Homo sapiens: one gene and its partner. The protein of the gene in region 2 binds, or shares a complex with, the protein of the main gene of each other region. Each region holds a gene or a part of one and is shown on either strand. Other genes may lie near its edges.

Region 1 (7,029 bases), on a different chromosome or scaffold from region 2:
ACCAGCTCAAACTGAACAGAACCTGTGATCATATAAACACCCTGCTTTGGCCTGATTATAATTATCAGCAAGATGCACAAAGCACTATTTTGCACCACACAATCCCACATGGTGGTCAATCATAAGCTCAGGATCTACTTCAGTTCCCACACATTTCATAGCTTATGCAATAAAGCATGTTTCAGGACAATATTTCTAACATGGGATGTTTGCACAAGTGCCTGAGAGACAGATAGGTCAATAGAAAGGATCAGCGTATCCAAAGATCTATTTTCTTCCCCTCCTTCCTCCCCTCCCACCAACCCCTCTCCCCTTAGGCAGAAGCGGAGGAGAAACGACCAATAAGGAAAGTCGTGGAGAGACTGGAGTGTTTTACATTTTAGATTTTACTTTCTTGTGTCGTTTTACAAAAGAAAGGTATTAATTACCTTGGAAAGGCTGGCGACTGGTGAGGGACTGAAGGTAAAGAAATATTTTCCTTTGCAATCAACTGTGCATACACAAACAAAGGTAACCAAATTGTAAGTTTTTCAAATTCCTGAGAGTGAAGTTCACGTAACAGAAATGGCTTACGCAACAGAAGCCTCAGAGGAAAAGATTGGTGGATCCATTACATCTAACTTAGAATGACTTTCAGGAAACGTATTTTTCTTGCCCATATTTTTTTTCTGGTGGAAGGGGGCCATTTTTAGTCACTACAAAAGGAAGAAAGGGGGTTGGGTGCCCACAGATGCTCCAGGACAAAGGCCCTGCCCAGCCCACCTCACCGTGTCTCCAATCTTGAGTCCCATACAAGACTTGAGGCCAGGGATGACCTCATTGTTGAGGCAGGTGGCATTGAAGGATAGAGACAACTCTTCAGGGAGGTCACGCACTTCCAGCTCTACTTTAGAACGGATTTTCTGAGCAGAAAGGGGCACAAGAAGACAAGAAATTGAACTGAAAGGAAACGGGAAATGGCAAGAGCCAGTTCCATCCCAAGCCAAATCTGGCAAGTAGCTCTGGACTCACCCCAGCAGTGCCAGAGGCCAAGGTTTGACCTGGAAGCTGCCGGAGCACCCCTAGGACTCTGTTTCCTGCGCAGGAACCTGCTCCCTCTTTCCATCTCCACTTGCGTCTAGGTGAGTCTGGGTAAAATGTACCAGCTACACCCTCCTGCAGGCCTCACAGATGTTGCAAAAGGGGAGTGCCAATACTGGTCACCTTGGAAAGTGGCATTTTCTACCTAATGTTTCATCAACCTCACCTTCCCCATGTCTCAGCTCTCTCTTTTCCCTGTTATTGGAGCCCAGTTTTCCCTCACTCTGCCCCCACAATTCCAGGGCTCTGCTCCTTCTCCATCTAATCACCATCCCCATCCCCATCTTCTTTCCTTCTTTCTCTCTTCCTTCCTTCCTTCCTTCCTTCTCAGAAGGCTGCATCCCTTCTAGAGCGGGCCATTGCCTGGGCTCTGGGAGCACACGGAGAAGGCAGTAAGACCGTGTGGTAGACTGGCAACTGGGACTCACAAATCTGAGCCCTGCTGTGTAAGCCAAATGAGGTGGACTCTCCGCGGGACTATTCCCAGCACAAGACACTTACCCCATAAGCATCAACAATGAGCTGGAGGACATTGCTGGAATCCATGGACAGAACCCCAACTGTGGTCCCTGGGATGAGCTCACTATAGTTCTAGAAAGGAAAACAAAGATGTCCAGAGCTTACCAAAGGAAGCTGGTGGTCTCCAAAAGCCCTCCCCAAATCCCACTGAGAGTCCTGAGATGAAGATTGGAGGAAGGTACGGGATATTTCAATTGTCACTGCCAGGAATATATCTAGCAGTTTTTCAGCCCTGAGCAAAAGTAGAGGAAACCTCTCACACCCCTCACCACCTCCCCTCCACCACCACAAACACCAACACATACCTAGTAAGTTCAAGATTGCAGGAAAAAGGCCCAGAGTGCAATCTTTAGCTCCTGGGGAGTGGATTAGGGGAGACTCTTTCCTGATTGGGGACTGTATCCAATGCTAGCACAGGCTGGCTACCTGGGGCACCCACCATCACAGGGCCCACTCCAGGAAGCCCGAAGGCACAGTCACCTGATAGAGATTGACTACATTTTCAGTCACTGCAAAGATCAAATTGATGTTTTTCTGGGATAGCTTCTCAGTCATCAGCCCCAAAGAGGGATAATCCTAGGAAAATGAAGGATGTAGAGGTTAATGACGTCTCATGTACATCTCTAGGGTCTAAAGCTTAGAACTTATCTTGCTTGGGCTGTGGCTCAGAGTGTGGTGGTGCTTAAACCATTTCACTTCATGCTGAAAGTGAGACAAGAGCCTGGGCAACATAGCAAGACCCCATCTCTACAAAAAAATTTTTTTTATTTGCCAGATGTGGTGGTAAGTGCCTATAGTCCTAGCTACTGGGGAGGCTGAGGCAGGATCACTTCAGCCCAGGAGTTGGAGGTTACAGTGAGCTATGATTGCACCACTGCACTCCAGCCTGGGCAGCAGAGCAAGACTCTGTCTCTAAAAAAAAAAGGGGGGTGACAGTGAGATAAGAAGGGTAAGTAGCACAGAAGTCTACTTGTGAACTCCAGGGATAGACGAAGAGGTACAGGCCAGTGGTGTCAAAACTAAGCACCTCTTTCTTCCTGCTTGAATTTAATGCACTAATACTATGGAGCTGCTTCCGTGCACAAGGGACTGGGTTAGGCCTCTGTTTTGGAACTACTGACAAATGCCTTGGCCTGGCCCTCGTGATCCTCCACCGTGTGGTCTCAGTCTTTCTTTCCAAATATTGCTCACCTCTCTCCCTCTTCCACTCAGCAGTGATCTGGCCCACTGTCTCCCACCTGGAGTGGCCTTCTTGTTGGTAATCCTCCTCCTTTCTTAGGGCCTAGCTTAGCCCCCACCTTCTTCAGGAGACTTCCTTGGCCATCCCAGCTCATGATGACCTTTCCTCCCTTGGATACGTATAGCCACATTGGCTGTGCCACACCCATTTGGCACTAATCATGCATCTTGTGTTATTGTAAATATATATATCCTTTCTCCTCAAGTAGACCAAAAACTCCCCAAGGATAGAACCATACATAGTCTTGTTACCTCCCTCAGCCCCTGGCCCAGTGCCTTGCATAGATTAGGGGTCAAATGTTGCTGACTCATTGTCTGGTAGTGCTTGACTTGGATATGGCTGACACCAAGGAACTCAAGGACACTGTGCGGGGGCGGTGGTGAATCGTGAACATGTCCATGGGATCCTAGACCTTGCAGGGAGCTCATTAGATCCTCAGCTCAGTCTCCTGCCTTTACACAGGTACACCTTTAAGTCACCTAGATGAGGAAGTTGCTATATTGTCCTTAGGAGACGAAGAGTTCACACCTGCCCCAGATACCTAGAGCATTACAGCACATTTCTCTTATGGCTTATAGTAATTTCTCCTGATTCAATTTAAATATTTTCCTCTTGTTTAACCTTCTATGGCCATATAAAACAACTTATAAGAAGTTTTCTCATGTATAAGCTAAATCATCCTTTAGCCTTCTTTCTTTCAAGCTAAATGACTCTGGCCCTTTAATCTTTCCTCGTAGGACCTGTTCACCATGCCTTTTATGTTCTTTCCCCTCTTTCTCTCTCTCTCTCTCTCTCTCTCTCTCTCTCTCTTTCTAAGAGAAGGGGTCTCCACTAGGAGCAATGGCTCACACCTGTAATCCCAGCACTTTGGGAGGCTTAAGAGGGCAGATTGCTTAAGCCAAGGAGTTTGAGACCAGCCTGGGCAACATAGAAAGACCCTGTTTTCAAAAATTAGCTGGGCATGGTAGTGCATGCCTGTGGTCCCAGCTATTCAGGAGACTGAGGTGGTGAAGCTTGTGAGCCAAGATTGCACTACTGCACTCCAGCTGGGCAACAAAGCAAGACTCTGTATCAAAAAAAAAAAAAAAAAAAAAAAAAAAAAAAAGCAGGGGTGGTTCTTGCTCTGTCACTCAGGCTGGAGTGTAGTGGCAAGATCACAGCTCACTGCAGCCTCAGACTACTGGGCTCAAGAGATCTTTCTGCCTCAGCCCCACAAGTAGCTGGGACCATAGGCACAAACCACAACACTCAACGAATTTTTGCATTTTCTTGTAGAGGCAGGGTCTCACTATATTTCCCAAGCTGGTTTCAAACTCCTGGACTCACGTGATCCTCCCACCTCAGCCTCCCAAAGTGCTGAGATTACAGGCATGAGCCATCATATGCCTGGCCAATCTTTCTCTTTTTTTTCCTCTGTCTTCTTCCAATAACCACAAGTTAGTATGGTATTCCAAGAAAGGGCTAATCAGAGTGGAGAGGAAGACCTGCTTTCCAGCTGGGTTGTAAAAATCCTTTGGGTCCATTCTGGATCCCATGATGCTGCTGCTATGCTGGTGACAGTGAAGGCAGTGATAACACCACAATCAGGGACATCTCTAATGGTTATATAGGTTGTATGCTGGATGACGGTGTCCAGTTGGTAAGGGATAGGGGCAAGCTGGAACCGAGCCCTGCACCCTGCCCAGAAGGAGGGGCTGCCATTTTCATATTCACACAGACTCTGCCTAGATTAGGGCAACCCTCACAATCATGAATAGAAACCATAGGTGGTGCCAGAGATCTCACCATGGTAGTGGAGGCAGAGTAATGATTGTCACTACCAACATGACACTGCCCGTCATTAGGCTGGACAATGCCTGCCAGCCTTCCGTCCAATGCTATATGAGTCTTGGCATCAGTGGTAAACACCAGCAAGTGGGATGCATCATTCCTCCAGCCAATCTTTTCCTGTTAAAAGAAAACAAAAAACAAAGGCAGAGGAGACAAAACAAATTCAGCCATGTCACTGGTAGAGAACAGAGACCCAAGGTGCTCCCTGGCTAAAGGGCTGGACAGCTTATTTTTCTTCAAAACAAGGGTCTCAGTCCCAGTCCTTGGAACCGAAGCTGAAGCTTTCCAGTTCAGGAGTTTCATTCTCTTCAGAAAACAGTCTCATAGCTGATTAGTTCAAGCAGCTGAATGAGATCTTCTTAAACTCCAAACTTAACTCTTCTAATGACAGTCACATTGCTCATCTAGAAACTGACGTGCATCCACAGAGCTGATCTGGGCTAGAAGAAATCTCATCTGAACATCTGCCTACTTTGCTGAGGTTAAGTTAACTCAGCCTTAACTCTGAAGTAACTCTGAAGATGGGAAGATGCTCTCCCCTGGGAACATCTGAGACCACTGAGGTTCAAAGAAATGTCAGCTCAGGCCAGGGAGTGGATCTAAGCCAAGGCTGAATATCAGGAGCAACTTACTACTCATAACTGCAGGAAGCCCTGCTTAGTTCTCATCTCATTTTACACCAGAAATCCCCAGAGTTCAGTCACTTCCTTTCCCATTTTGATCTATGCCAGCCACACCTGGCACTCCAAGTCCTCCAAACTCACATCACAGACTGTAGCCTGCATGATGGCATCAAAGCCACCCTCTGGGGCATCTCGGTTCCGTGACACACTCTGCTTCTTCACTTCCTCATTGAAGCGGGTCACCTGGTCAGTTAGCGTCAGCACGTGTTTGTAGCCAAACATGGGCAAGCAGGTGGTCTTCATACTGGGGAGGGATGGGAGATAATTTAAGCAGACACCTTCATGGAAAAGGCAGCATGGGAATTGGGAGGAAAGAGAGGGGACAAATATAGATAGTGGTATGCCAAGGCCAGTTCCATACAACCACAGTTACCCAGACAGTTCAGACTCCAAAATCCTCAAATTATCTGAAGCTCCCCATCAACATTACCCCCATCCAGCTAACCTAGAAGATAAGAGATTGAGCTGGAAACAAGACTCCCTGAGCTTAGATCCCAGGTGCCCTCTGTACTAGTCATGGGACCTTTGGCAAGCCTCTCAATCCAACCTATGAAAGAGGGGCCAGGATAGCACATATCCCATAAGAGTTGTGAGACTTAAGTAAGTTCATACACACAAAGCACTTAGACCAGAGCGAGGCTCGAGTTGCTATTACTATCACCTTATACTTAACACTTTCCTAAAGTAACAATAAAGCAAAAGTCCATCAGTAAGTTAAGGTCCCTGAACCATCAATAAATTGATAGATCATGCAAGACAGGAGCATTTCTGCCCCCAGTCAAAATAGTGTGTTTAATTAATAGCTGATGTCTTGCCTGGGAACCTTACAACCCAGATAGAAGGTTGAATGCCACATCATATAACTTCAAAACTTTTTCTTTTTTTTTTAGAGACAGTTGTGCTCCATTGTCCAGGTTGGAGTGCAGTGGCACAATCATGGCTCACTGCAGCCTCAACCTCCCAGGCTCAATCAATCCTCCCACCTCAGCCTCCCTGTAGTCCTGGGGACTGCAGGCATGCGCCATCACACATAGCTAATTTTTTTGTAATTTTTGTAGAGATGGGGGTCTCACTATGTTGCCTAGGCTGAACTCAAACTCCTAGGCTCAAGTGATCCTCCCATCTTGGCCTCCCAAAGTGCTGGGATTACAGAAGTGAGTCACCCCACCTGGCCGTAACTTTGAAAACTAAAAAGTAAATTCACACCTTTTCAGGCTCAGCAACCAGCATTGTAAGTTATTCTAATACATGGATTTGCACAGTCTCCACCGATTAAATAAATAAGCCATTCAGTTTTAAGCCAAAGTGTCAAACAGAGGCACAAGTTATCCATTTACAGACTATAAAAGTGTCCAACAAATGTCATTTCCACTCTTTTATATTCCTTAGCACTTCATTTCTTCTGTTTTCACCCTGCAGGATGCACGGCCTTGATGAAGACAATAATGCCAACAATGGAATCGATCCTTCTGTAATCGTAATTTCTCGGTTTCCTTATCCATAAATTTCTTTCTACTTTTGACGTCATTTCCCTCCCATTCTCTCTTGCCTTCTATTTATTTGTTACCAAGACTGAGAAGCTGATGAATTTTCTTTCTAGGTTCTCCAAACAGCCTTAGGCTCCATTGACACAACACTCCAGATCCACAAGCTAGCCCATTTGCCAAACAGGGAGAC
Region 2 (7,686 bases):
GCTGATGACATCCTGGGCAAGCCCTTCGGGACACTCCAGAATGTGGCAGGCTGAGGGCACAGCAGAGGCTGTCAGTGAGCTGAGCCCACTGGGAGGAGGCACAGACAGGGGCCCTCATCTTCCTCTGCAGGAACCCCCACTGAGATCTACTTAGAGTGGGTACAGATGACCAAAGGTCCTACTCACCTCCTCAAACAGCCAGACCCACCCAGTGCTCCCCACCATGCCTCACCTCTCTGATTCACAGGGTCTTTGGCAACATAGGCGACATACTCGGCTGTGTCCTGGGGAGGAAGGTCAAAAAATTTTACAGTTCTACTTTACTCCTGACCCCTAAAACCCAGTCCTTTTCAGATATCCCCACAATCCTAGCACCCCCACTTCTCTAATCAATGTCTTCCCAATCCCTAGCCCCTTGCTCTTCTCCCACCGCCTTTGCTCTGTTCCCCAACTCACCGGATCCCCGCCGGATGCAAATGAGATAGATTGCATGTGGTGGTTGGCGATGATCTGAGAATTAGGGCAGGGGATGAAGAAGGAAGGGAATGCCATGTGTCAGGCAGCCTCAGGGCCCAGAACCCTGGTGCCCCAGTCTCATTCTCTGGGTTCCTTATCCCATATCCTCATTTCCTCCTTCCCTACTGGTCTCCTGCTCTCAAGCCCTCTTCCTAGATTTTGGCCTCCTAACTAGATCTCCCCTTAGCACCCCCATCAGTGTTTCTGGTCCGTCTGCCCACCTTCACCAACCTGTTTGCAGTCTGCGGCCATGAGGTTGAGGCTGCTGGTGGAGACGGTGAGAGTGATTGGCATTCCAGCAAATTTCAGGTTACTCCTCCCCAGGATAGAGCTGAGCGGGCGGCTACAGGGCTAAGGTAGGGCCCAGGGTCTCAGAAGGTGAGGGTTCCCAGCACAGGCAAACCACACTTTTGCCTCCTGGCCCTCTCCCCACATGCCCCACACTTGCCTCCCCACTGCCCCTCCACATTTCCCAGCAGCATCCCTATCCCCAAGGACCCCAAGTACCTTTCTCCTCCTTGTCGCCCCCTTAGCACCCGGCACAGCCTCACACACCAGACTGATGGCCTCCCTGGGGAAAGAGGGGTACTCAGACCCAGCGCCTGCCTGCCTGCCTCCCACTCAACTGGGGCTGCCACAGGGCTGGGGGAGGGGAAAGCCAGGCCAGACTCCCAGGGCACTCCAGGCTCTTTGTCATGGTGGATTGAATTAAGGGCCTTTAATATTTGATGACACTGAGAGGCCACTTCCTGGCTGATTGGGTTAGGGCCTCAATGGGTATAGCCCCACCCCCTTCCAGCTACCAAATGTCCCATTCCCTTCCCAAAGGCAGCAGCAACCTTCCATCTACCCCCCTTTTCTACTCCAGCTCCACCTGCCAGCTGCTTCTGCCACCTTCCCCACAACTCCCAAGGCTGGATAGGTAAGGAGGATCCGGGCCAAAGGGGCCTCCTTTCAGTAAGAGGCGGAATCACTACCTCAGCTTTCTCTCAATCCCCTTTACTACGCAAAGATCAGCCCCCAGCAGCAGCACCCAAGTGACCCACTCCCCTCCTCTGTTTCCCATGGCCTCACTAATCCCAGGACTCCCACAATCCACTCCCTCCCCACTAACCTGGTGACCTGAGTCCGGGTGTTGAAGTCCAGGGCACGCATTGACTGGAGGACCTCCACACAACCCATGTACTAAGGGGAGGGAGAAGAGGACAGCAGGTCAGCGGCTCCCCCACCCCAGCCCCTTCACAAAGGGCCCTAGGACTTTACCCATATGGTCCCTAAGGGAAGTAAAGAGGAAGAAGTTCTGCCCACTTCCCGTGGCTACATCCCACAACCAAGGTGAAAGACAACAGGGAATGAGGAGAAAAAGAAAAGGCAGGCTAGAAGGACCTCACACACTGGGGAGAGAGTTTGGAGGGGACCGACAGGCATTGGCTGGGATGGAGTGACAACTCCAGAAAGCGGGAGGAGAATGGAGGAAAGATCAAGAAGTCATTCATTCCAACACTTATTAAGAGCTTCTGCCATGCTGGGCATTGTGCTAAGCATGCCAGGGTGGGGGTGGGGGAGTGAAAAGAAGGAAGGGGGCCCAGGCAAAGCTGGAAGGGAAGGGGCTACAGAATCGGGGAAGGGATGAGAAAGGTTTAGGAAATAGGACACTGAAACGGGGTTGTTGGGGAACAGCAGGAAAAAAGAGATTCCGGCCAAGCTGGAGTGAGCATTAGAACTGGAGGGGGTCTGCGGGGGAATGGAGAGGAGGATGTTCACTCACCCGAACCAAGTAGGAAACCCCGGGTCCCATGACTTTGTCGTTGGGATGCAGCCAGCCCCGCGTGGGCTTATTGACAAAGCTCCCGTGGCGGGTCCACTCCTCGCCCCCAAGCTGGCCCCCTTCCACCCGAGTCCTGCGCCCGCCGCCTCCACTCAGCTTGTTCATGTCCTGGAGGAGGGGTAGGGGGCCTGAGTCTGGCATGGCTGCCCCTACGATCCCCTCCCCATCATCAGCTGCCCTTCCTGGCTCCCCCTTAGACCCTGGGCGCCCCCCAGCCGGGTTGGCCAGCCTCAGGTTGCTCATCCGGGGGAAGAAGGAGCACAGGGTAGTGGGACTATCGTCCCCAGGCAGAGGAGGCAGGATGGGCCCCAGGGATGAAGCTGATGGGGAAGGCAGCTCCTCCGGGGGGGTGGACCCAGAAGCCCCTTCCTCCAGCGATGACAGAGACTCATTCCGGAGTGGATTGTACTTGGGCTTGGGGGGCAGGAGATCCATAGTTGAGGTGAAAGAGGGGCTGCTGCCCAGCCTGGCCCCCCTGCCAGTTTGGGCAAGGGGGCCAGGCAGGGGGTATCCCCAGGCCCTTAGCCTGGTTGGACCTCTGTGGCCCAGGAGTCACAGAAGTCCTGGGGAGGGAGAGGGACAAGTGGCTTCCGCTCCCCAGCTCAGACCCAGACAGTTTCAGGCCCCATCCCCGCCCAACGTGGAGCCTCTTCTCTGGCTGAGAAGAGAACAGGCTGGACCCAGCGCTTCTGGCTCCTCCCCAGGGGCGGGGAGCTAAGGGGAGAGACCAATCGTGAGGACAGTGCTGACTCACAGGCTCAGAGGGGCTGAGCCCCCACCCCGCCCCAACCTCGAACTGGAGCAGGGGGTAGGGCTATCCAAGCCCCTCTCCCCTGCCCTATACAAACAACTAGTAATCTGGGGAGAAGTAAAGTGGGGGTGGGAGGGAAGGATGGAAGAGTGGGACGGAAAGGAAGGAGATAGGAGGTCTGGGTCACTCAAAACCGGACACACGCAGGCCAAAGGGGGCAGGAAGCCAGGCAGGAGTACAGGGGAATGAGGGAGGAAACAGAGGCAGCTGGGGGTGGAAAAGGGAGGAGATCTCAGAGCTCAGCATTTCCCTTCCTGTCCTGGTTGGACACTCGAATTCCCCCACCCTCTCTATGCCCGAAAGCTGGCTGGCCCCAGCCCAGGCCACCCCCAACCGCTACCCCATACAGTAAGCCTGGGCCATTAGCATCCTCTGCTACAGCAGCTGTGGACTGGAGCTAGCGAAGTGGGGATGGGAAGTAAGTGGTCCCAATGGATGCAGAGCAGGGCCAAGAGGAAGAGCAAAGCTGGTGAAAAAAGGGGAATAAAGTTCAACCTGGATGATACATCAGGAAGCTACCAGGCAAGAAGGGAACAAGAGGACATGCTGGTCACGGCTTGTTCTCTACGTATGCCATCTACCACACCAAGACCGATGGCTCATAGCCAAGCACTGTCCTGTCTCCCCTTTCCACAGGGCTTGTTAACACAGCACACTGTCAAGGGTGAGAATGAGGCAATCAGGTCCCCACTCCCACTCCAAACCACCCCAATTCACATCCCTCCTCTTACAGGGCCCTAAGCCCCACCAAAGAGCACAGCATCCTTCACACCAGGGAAGGAGCCTGGCTGGAGGAGGTGGAAGAAACAGTTCTCCAAGAGAAGTAGAAACTACAGGCCAGGAAGGGACAGAGAGATCAGAAGACACATCTGCGTCAATAAGGACAGGAGAAAAATAAGTACAGGAGAAAGGGGTGTCAGGAGAAGATGGGTTGAAGCTGGACACAGGGAACAGTCCCAAACCCATTCCTGCCACCCACGGCTTCCTGCCACTGCTCTTCCGGAGAATGCCACAGGCAAAGCTGGAAAGTGACCAAAAAAAAAAAAACAAAGATACGTATTCCTACCGGGCGCGGTGGCTCACACCTGTGATACCAGCACTTTGGGAGGCTGAGGCGGGTGGATCACCTGAAGTCAGGAGTTCGAGACCAGCCTGGTCAACATGGTGAAACCCTGTCTCTACTAAAAATACAAAAATTAGCTGGGCGTGGTGGCGGGCACCTGTAATCCCAGCTCAGGAGGCTGAGGCAGGAGAATCGCTCGAACCCAGGAGGCGGAGGTTGCAGTGAGCCGAGATCGAGCCATTGCACTCCAGCCTAGGTGACAAGAGCAAAACTCCGTCTCAAAAAAAAAAAAATACGTATTCCCCCCAGCTCACCTTGGAATTACCCTTAGATTTACTTCAGAGAATTAAAATATAGATAGATAATTATCCTGATTAACAACATTAACACTTGAAGTGTGTTAGATGCTGTGCTTAACTCTTACATCTCCCCTTAGTGCTCATTCCAGAAGAGCTTTGTCACTCTGCCAGCCAATCCTGAGAAGGAATTTTATCACTTCATTTCCAGCCAGCTCTCGGGCATAGAGAGAATGAGGAAAGGATTCCACCATAGCCTCACACCCCCAAAACACACAAACACACACTAGGATGTCCCTCATCTGTAGAGATGATGTTCTGTGGGAGCCTACAGTATCCAGAGCCAGGGAAGGACCAACGGGTGTGGGCGTTCGGAAGAAAAGAAAGACGTATGACTCTTGAAATTTACATAGGGAGAAAGGAGATTGCCTACTGGAAGTCCAGGTGATTGGGTGTAGGGGAAAAGCTGTGTGTGGCTTCGCAGCCCAACTGGGAGGAGGGGACAGGGGCGGGAAGTGGCAGGAAATGGCGAAAGCCTCAGGAATGTTTCCAGCAGGGAAGGCTGGGCAAACGGGGCCAGGAGGAATGCCCAGACAAGAACTCTGGTTAGGGGGAGGGGAAGAGACAGAGAAGTAGCGACTGAACTGTCCCTTAAAAAAAAAAAAATCAAACAACAAAAAGAGCACTATTATCTACCCCCACTCCAAACTACCGTTCTTCTGGTAGTAGAAAACTTTTGCTCATGTCACACCCACATGCCACACACCAACAAATCCATGGTCTTATCCACTTATGTCTAGGAAGGCCTAGAGCTACTTCTGGGATGAGGTTGGTCCTGGGAAGGGAAAGCCAGGAAGTGAGGCTGGGAGTCTGAGGGCAAGTCTCTCTCTCCCTCTCGTGCCAAACCCCACGTTCAGCCCTTTCAAATAGTTCTACCCTTGGAGGAGGTTAAGAAAGAGGAAAACGGGGACGGGCGCAGTGGCTAACGCCTGTAATCCTAACACTTAAGGAGGCTGATAAGGGTGGAGCACCTGAGGTCAGGAGTTCGAGGCTAGCCTAGCCAACATGGGGAAACCCCGTCTCTACTAAAAATACAAAAATTAGCCGGGCGTGGTGGTGGGCGCCTGTAATCCCAGCTACTCAGGAGGCTGAGGCAGGAGAATCACTTGAACTCAGGAGGCGGAGGTTGCAGTGAGCCGAGATCGCACCATTGCACTCCAGCCTGGACGATAAGAGCGAAACTCCGTCTTAAAAAAAAAAAAAAAAAAAAAAAAGATAGAAAGGAAAACGGAAAACGGCTGCCTTTAATCTCACTCCTTACAGCCAGAGATGGGAACTTTGACTTCCCACCTGGGGGAGCACGAGAGTGCTCGGAAAACTGATCCCAAGGCCCAAAAAGAGAAAGGACAGGAAAATATAAGCAGGTGGAGTTTCAGGGATTGACGACAAGGCTTTTCAGCTGATGACCCAGGTCCCACAAAGATAAAGCTCCTAAGGGGGCGTGGTCCCCTAAGGACGCGAACTTCAGACTTCTGGGCGGGGAGGCTTTCTGGACAGTCAGACGTGGATTACGGAGGGGGCGTGGCTTCGGAGGGGCGGAGCTTCAACAAATTCGAATCGTTCTTTGAAGAGCAGGGTTTTGCCCTTTTGGGAGATAGGCCTTTTGACAGGAGTTAGCCGAGGATCGTTGCTAGGAGGCGGAGTTTCGGAGAATGGAAGGAGTAACGAAGGGTTTCTCGTAGTAGGGCTTGGAACGTGTCGGGGGGTGGGGACTTCCAGAAAAACTGGGCGACAGGGTGGGGTCGGAGACAAAAAATAAAAATCAAGTCGGGGTTCGGGGGAGCCCCCTGAAGTTGGGAGGTGGGACTTCCGGGGAGAGGGGTCTCAGGGGCGGGACTTATAAATGAAGACCGGAAGTGGGGTCCCGGGAGAGGGGTTCCGGGGTGAAAGAGTGAGTCACCTAAGGAGAAAAAAGTCAAGACTCACCAGGGCCTCATGGAGTCTCCGCACCGCACCGCGGGCCGATTTGGTGCCGGATCACGCCACTGCCAGCTTAGGTTACCGCTCCAACTTTCTCCCCGGGCCCTGCCTCCCTGGAGAAACTTTATTACACTCACTTCCGGCCTCACTAACCCCTGACCCTCTACCTCAGGGTCCCTCCTTCACGCTTCCCACTTTCCCGAGTTAGCCAATGGCAGCGCGAGATCGCGCACAAAGGCAGTGGTGGCCAATAAGACGCCTACTTTTGACCCACGCTCGTTCTTGAGAAGCGTGAGAACTGCCCTCCAATAAGGATCCGAAGAGAAGTAAATCTAAGCCAATCGGAGGCTTGAAAGTAGAGGTGTCCCGCCTCGAGCCAAACGGACCAATAGGAAGTGCGGGCGGCGTGTTTGAAAGCGAGGCCAAAGTGGGTGGGAGCGCGTGCTGTTGGGAGTTGCTTGGAGGTTGGCGGCGCGGGGCTGAAGGCTAGCAAACCGAGCGATCATGTCGCACAAACAAATTTACTATTCGGACAAATACGACGACGAGGAGTTTGAGTATCGGTTAGTGCTGGCGCGGGAGCAATAGCGAGGGTCGTGAGCTTTGGCCGCTGAGGGCACAAGGAATTAGTAACAGGAACTGAGGCGATAGAATTGGCGCATGCGTACGAGGTGCGAACGGGCAATGGTGTGATATTGTGGAAGGCGTAAGGCGCATGCGCGGAGGTGGGAGGCGCTCGTAAAACAAAGTGGTTGCGAATTTGGAGTCGCCTCTCAGTAGAGAGGAGAGAGGGGTGGGCGTGGTTAGGGTACTGACCACCCTCACCCATGAGGCTTTCTGGATCATTCTCTGAACTTTATCGGGCAAACTTAACTTGCCTTGTAGAGACTGTTTCACAGTAATCTTGTCGAATCCAGTGGGAGAACGTAGCAAAAGCGGAGCTGGAAGTTTCCTGGCGTCCCTAACAGGAGAGTAGCGCTGAGAGAGTTGAATATTGCTTATTAACTCGTGAAAAAGACAAGGGGCGTGGTTGTCTGGCTTGTGTAAGGAAGGGGATCGCTTGGGACTGCAATGGAATAAAACTGGCTAGGAGCATTGAGAAAATACTTAATATGGGTCTAATAGATGCCCTTTAAATATCAAAGGGAACAGTTACGGAATACTTAACAGGTTTCAGGTGTTCTGCTAAAGT

Evidence for each region. The genes of interacting proteins can lie anywhere in the genome.
Region 1: the proteins of SHC1 (region 2) and ITGB3 are in contact, whole or in part, in an NMR structure (PDB 2L1C), measured with the Homo sapiens proteins. Residues at the interface, in NP_892113.4 of Homo sapiens: Ser175, Met176, Arg177, Asn182, Arg184, Thr185, Gln186, Thr188, Arg189, Glu190, Ser193, Leu194, Arg208, Arg209, Lys210, Arg214, Pro215, Leu216, Ser217, Ile219, Met257, Gln258, Ser259, Ile260, Ser261, Phe262, Ala263, Ser264, Gly265, Pro268; in NP_000203.2 of Homo sapiens: Trp765, Asp766, Thr767, Ala768, Pro771, Leu772, Tyr773, Lys774, Glu775, Ala776, Thr777, Ser778, Thr779, Phe780, Thr781, Asn782, Ile783, Thr784, Tyr785, Arg786, Gly787, Thr788.

Annotation. Positions count from the first base shown.
Region 1 is NC_000017.11:47,284,827-47,291,855, reverse strand, and holds part of ITGB3 (integrin beta-3 precursor), read right to left. Parts: intron 5,597-7,029; coding exon 5,434-5,596; intron 4,787-5,433; coding exon 4,625-4,786; intron 2,176-4,624; coding exon 2,080-2,175; intron 1,672-2,079; coding exon 1,582-1,671; intron 903-1,581; coding exon 768-902; intron 1-767. UniProt on the Homo sapiens protein: Integrin alpha-V/beta-3 (ITGAV:ITGB3) is a receptor for cytotactin, fibronectin, laminin, matrix metalloproteinase-2, osteopontin, osteomodulin, prothrombin, thrombospondin, vitronectin and von Willebrand factor.
Region 2 is NC_000001.11:154,967,748-154,975,433, forward strand, and holds the start of SHC1 (SHC-transforming protein 1), read right to left. Parts: upstream 3,001-7,686; 5' UTR 2,780-3,000; coding exon 2,285-2,779; intron 1,702-2,284; coding exon 1,631-1,701; intron 1,088-1,630; coding exon 1,024-1,087; intron 868-1,023; coding exon 748-867; intron 511-747; coding exon 457-510; intron 285-456; coding exon 233-284; intron 51-232; coding exon 1-50. Other genes in the region: CKS1B (cyclin-dependent kinases regulatory subunit 1), read left to right, coding at 6,999-7,057. UniProt on the Homo sapiens protein: Signaling adapter that couples activated growth factor receptors to signaling pathways. Participates in a signaling cascade initiated by activated KIT and KITLG/SCF.